2 separate regions of the Homo sapiens genome follow, and region 2 is linked to region 1. Evidence: fine-mapped expression QTL. Tissue or cell type: whole blood. Region 1 holds a variant in brackets; the other region holds the start of a gene. All regions are shown on one strand. Distances are from middle to middle.

Region 1 (2,765 bases):
TTATAGGTAGAGTGATATAGGACAGTGATACTGTTATAGTTATAGAAAACTAGTACAGTGATACTGTTATAGTTATAGGACAGTGATATAGGACAGTGATATTGTTATAGTTATAGGAAACTAGTACAGTGATACTGTTAGAGTTATAGGTACAGTGATATAGGACAGTGATATTGTTATAGTTATAGGAAACTAGTACAGTGATACTGTTAGAGTTATAGGTACAGTGATATTGTTATAGTTATAGGAAACTAGTACAGTGATACTGTTATAGGTACAGTGATATAGGACAGTGATACTGTTATAGGAAACTAGTACAGTGATACTGTTAGAGTTATAGGTACAGTGACATAGGACAGTGATACTGTTATAGTTATAGGAAACTAGTACAGTGATACTGTTAGAGTTATAGGTACAGTGATATAGGACAGTGATACTGTTATAGTTATAGGAAACTAGTACAGTGATACTGTTATAGTTATAGGACAGTGATATTGTTATAGTTATAGGAAACTAGTACAGTGATACTGTTAGAGTTATAGGTACAGTGATATAGGACAGTGATATTGTTATAGTTATAGGAAACTAGTACAGTGATACTGTTATAGTTATAGGACAGTGATATAGGACAGTGATATTGTTATAGTTATAGGAAACTAGTACGGTGATACTGTTATAGTTATAGGTACAGTGATATTGTTATAGTTATAGGAAACTAGTACAGTGATACTGTTAGAGTTATAGGTACAGTGATATAGGACAGTGATATTGTTATAGTTATAGGAAACTAGTACAGTGATACTGTTATAGTTGTAGGACAGTGATATTGTTATAGTTATAGGAAACTAGTACAGTGATACTGTTAGAGTTATAGGTACAGTGATATAGGACAGTGATACTGTTATAGTTATAGGACAGTGATATTCTTATAGTTACCGTGGTATAGTTATAGTTAAAGGTACAGTGATATTGTTATAGTTATAGGACAGTGATATTGTTATAGTTATAGGACAGTGATGTAGTTACAGTGATATAGGTACAGTGATATTGTTATAGTTATAGGACAGTGATATAGTTATAGGACAGTGATATTGTTACAGTTATAGGTACAGTGACGTTGTAATAGTTATAGGACAGTGATATTGTTATAGTTATAGGTACAGTGATGTTGTAGCAAAACTGTAAGGTCATTCCTTGGTTGTGTCCCTATCTAGTGAAATGACTCTACCAGGGGTAGGGAAATAAAACTCTGTCGTTTCACACATAAAGGTAATTTCAATGGAATTATCCAGAAAATTGCCATGACATTCCACCTCATTTAGCATGTCAGGATGTTAATGACAAGATGTTACTAAAAGCAAATCCCTTACGGCCAGTTTTCCGCAGTACTGGGTGCTGGCTCTGTGCCTGGCCCTGTATTGGGTGCTGGGCTAGGATTTCCCTGTGGAAGATTGGGAAGGTTGGTTACAAGGTGGCTATTTTCCTGTCTCCTCTTTGCGACAGCACACCTTCTCCATGGTGTGTGCCAGGTTCACGTGTACTGGTGATTTAATTTTAACGTTCATATTATTTTTTTCTGGGAGAGTTTTTGAAGGCTGCCAGGAGGCAGGACTCGATGCAAACATGCTCCATTCTGTACCCAGCCCTGTTGCTGGAAGGATTT[G/T]CTGCACTTACCCAGGGAACAGGCAAGCTCGTGCTGTGGCTCTGGGCTGTCACAGCTGCTGTCCACACCTGGGAGAGCACCCTGGATGGCTCATCTGTGTACTTGCTTTCTTGTTAAATTGCAGTGAGTTCACATGTGATTTAATCGGATCAAATGGCCTTTACAGACTGATAAAAATATGGCTGTTTCAGGTGGTGTTTTGAGCTGCTAAGGGCGTGGCTTTTCACTGAGTACGTGGTCCCCGTTCCTCAGGGAACACCCAGTAGCCACATGCCTCCTAAACCTAGAGTAGGGCTGTCTCCTGGCCTAACTGCCCAAATGAGATTCATAAGTTAGGGATGATCTGTAGTTATCACTACAGATTTGTCCTTGGTTTCACCAAGGATTTTCCTAATTTTACAAACAAAACCCCTAAGGCTCCTGGAAGGAGGGTAGAAGTGAAGGTGCTCCGGGGGCAACACAGCTGATGAGCTGAACCAGAACTCGACCCTTGGGTCACACACATTTCACAGTGCTCACTCCACCTTTTGTTTTTTTAATGGATTTAATGGTGTTTTAAAGCCTCCTGCCTCTCAACACATATGAATTCATTATATTTACAGATTTCCTTCTCTTGTGGTCCATCTTCCTGCATAGATCTTGAGAGATGTCAGGCTAACCACGTTTCCTCAGTTAATTTAACAAAACCATTTGCAACTCTGACATGGAAAATTCCTACCATGTGACTTATTAATTTATCAATTGAGATGGTACACATATTTTCAAGCCAAAAGGAGGAAAACATAAATTGGAAAAAAAAGGTTTTTTTATTTTTATCACCTCTGGGGAAGAAAGTCTGATAAACGAAGCTGGTTGATAAAATTGCAATTAGGGGAAGCAACATCATGGTTTCTGTTCGGAGGCTAACCAGATGGCATACTTGAAATAGAGAATGTCCTAGAAATCAACTGGTTGCTTGGCCAAAATATCTATAAATAGTGCCCAACATATTAGATAGGAAAAGCAAAGTAAAAACAATTTTAACAGGTTAGGACATTGGGCTGAAGTATTGCATATATTTAATGTCATGTGCGTCCGTGTGAAGAGACCACTAAACAGGCTT
Region 2 (2,765 bases), 49 kb before region 1:
AGCTCAGCCTCAACCCTTTAGAGAGGAGGAAACTAAAGCCCATGAGACTTGCTTAAAGATACTAAGTGAACATATTTATTTTTTAAAGTGTTAAAGTGATTAAACAATGTAGACGTGAATGAAATAAAAAGCGTAAGTTCCCCATCTTCATTCCCACTCCATAGAGCTGATCAGTATTTTTACTTGCAGACATTAGTGGAGCCGTAGAGAAAGAAACCTTTTCTCCAAAAGAAGGCATTACTTTACACACTCCGTTCTGCAACTTGTTTTGTTCACTTGCTATTTCACGTCAGCCCATGCAGATGACTTAAAACAAATTCAAATGGAGAAAAGCCTTAGGCATGTTTTTCTCTGCACTAAAGAGGCCCTGCAGGTGGCTGTGGCCAACTTATGCAGTGGCTTCGAGTGAACGAACGTAATTAGTAATTAAGCAAAGCGGGCATCCAGGACATTCAGTTTCATCTTCCTGGCACTTTAGTGTTTAGGAAGGGCCTGGCCTCTCGGGGAGCGACACTCCTCGCCCGGCCACTTTGTAAGAAGCATCGAGCGTGGAAAAGGGGCTGGGGTCAGCACTGGGGCCCTCTGCCGGGAAGAGAGACTGGCGGCCAGCACACGCGTCTCCCCAGGCTGAAATGGGGCACCCTCTCGCGGCCCTTCCCTCCCTTCCCGGGCTGGGTGGCAGGTCTTGGCTCTTCTGCGAGTACCCCGCGGCTGCGGTCTCCCGGCACCCGCTGAGCAGCCTCGCCCGCCTTCCTCTCCCACCCGCCCCTGCGTGCTCTCCGGGGCTCCGGCTTCCTCGGTCTGGTGCCTGGTGCGTATTTTGGAAAATACCTGGCTCATAACCACCTCATTGAGCTCCCAGTGTCCCAGTGGGCCAGCGGACACACACGGGTAGCTGACTTCCCTAACGTGTCCCCAAAGCCTCCCTGGATTACAGCGCCCGCTGCTCCATGTGACCCCGCGGGAGCCAGGACGCGCCCCGCCTCCCGGGGCTGCAAGTTGCGCAGGGAGCGAGCGATGCGCAGCAGAGCTGGGCTCCGAGCCGGATGCGCCTTCCTTTCCTCTCCAGAGCAGGCTGCCCGCCCGCGGAATCCCGCACGTAGAGCAACCTCGCAGCACCCTCAGAACAGCCCCGCTGGGGCGCGCCGGGCTGCCGCGGTGACCTTTCCGACGCCCCTGACCCCGCATCCGGAGGCGGCCGGAAGTGTCGCCGGCCTCCTCCCGGCGCAGCCTCCGGGCCTCCAGTGCAATCACTACGCCCTGGGGCCCGGAAACCGTTTTCCGGTCTTTCGCTTTCGGCTGGGGCGTGGAGGCCGCGGTGCTGCGTAGGCCGGGCCGGGCGCAGGAACAGCCCCGTGGCGCCCTCTCTGGCCGCCGCCCGGGCGGGAAACGTCGTTCCGGGGACCGGGCGACCCCGCAGCGGGGAGCGCGCCAGGTCCGCGCGGGGAAGTGGGCGGTGTGCGGCCGGCACCGCCTCGCACCACGCCCCCGCGGGCCCGCACTTTCCCGGAGTGCACCCCGCGGCCGCCAGCCGGGGCGATGGCGGGGCTCTGGCTGGGGCTCGTGTGGCAGAAGCTGCTGCTGTGGGGCGCGGCGAGTGCCCTTTCCCTGGCCGGCGCCAGTCTGGTCCTGAGCCTGCTGCAGAGGGTGGCGAGCTACGCGCGGAAATGGCAGCAGATGCGGCCCATCCCCACGGTGGCCCGCGCCTACCCACTGGTGGGCCACGCGCTGCTGATGAAGCCGGACGGGCGAGGTAAGGGCCGGCGCTCCTCCTGGAGCGCAACGGGGTCCGCAGCCCCGTTCCCACCCTCCGATCAGCCAGGAACCCGCTGCTTGTGGCGCTGGCCGCAGGAGAGAGGAGCCTGTCACCCTGTGGAGAATGCACTCCCAGTTCTAGTCGTTGCCCCTTGGCACCCGCCGACACTGCTAGTGCCCCATCCCAAAGTGAGCATTTTCTTTGTGTGTAGCACAGGATGCGGTATTTCCAAACCCCTGCCCTCGGTCTTTTCCCACCTCACCGCTGCTCAGCTCTCAAAGCCCTGCCGTTTCCTCCTGCCTTGGCTTGGGAAGCCTTAGGAACAGAAGCTCCCTGGGAGCACAGAGCGGTTTTAAACTGGCCAACACCTTAACGCCCAGAGCCGCCCTCCTCTCGCTGCCACTTTGGAAAATAAGAGACTAGAGATTCACTGGACGCTTCCTCCCGGCATCACAAGACTTGACTGCTGCTTCAGTTCCCGCTTGACCTTCATACTTTAGCCCTTTAAAGGATGTTACATAATAACAATTAAGAGACGGCAGGGCCTTCAGGCAGACTTCTTTGGAGGGTGTCAAACGCCTTGTTTATTAAAGAGTGAATTTTTTAATTAAAATCATGTTTTAAAACAGAGATGGACATTTTATTGATGGAAAAAAATCACGTTAAGTTAGAAAGCTCTCAAAAGTACCTGGTATTTACAACTCCCTGTCAGGGAGGGCGAACTCGATCTCAGAGTTTTATTTTCATCAGGGATTACGTTGAGGTACCCAGAAATGAGAAGATTTGCCCAAAATGGCATATTTTAAAATTGGCCCAGACCAGAACCCAGTTTCCTCTGGGATTATTTGTTAGTAATCGTTTTACAGGCTGAGCATTAACTAACTCCAAAGCTTGAAGGACTTTTTCTCATTTTCACTTGTTTTCTCTAATAAAAATAATGCTGTAATTTCAACTTCACAAGATGAGGCCTCATGGAAGAGTGTTTACCAAAATATTAAAAATACTTTGA

What was found. PIP is the estimated chance that this variant, and not a neighbour inherited with it, causes the effect.
Region 2: it holds the start of CYP4V2, and the variant in region 1 is fine-mapped to the expression of CYP4V2 in whole blood (INTERVAL, PIP above 0.99).

Annotation. Positions count from the first base shown.
Region 1 is chr4:186,239,231-186,241,995 of GRCh38, forward strand. All of the region lies in intron 6 of KLKB1 (kallikrein B1), which reads left to right. LOC124900873 (a long non-coding RNA gene) reads left to right here. Exons shown (of 2, transcript XR_007058497.1): 2 at 1-1,264. Among named protein-coding and RNA genes, the nearest start is that of KLKB1, 13 kb to the left of the region's middle. RefSeq lists an enhancer at 1,875-2,480. The variant G/T (reference allele first, on the strand shown) is at 1,664.
Region 2 is chr4:186,190,285-186,193,049 of GRCh38, forward strand. It overlaps CYP4V2 (cytochrome P450 family 4 subfamily V member 2), which reads left to right and starts at 1,283. Exons shown (of 11, transcript NM_207352.4): 1 at 1,283-1,753. The coding sequence starts at 1,540. It overlaps FLJ38576 (a long non-coding RNA gene), which reads right to left and starts at 1,206. Exons shown (of 1, transcript NR_046264.1): 1 at 1-1,206. RefSeq lists a silencer at 1,080-1,609.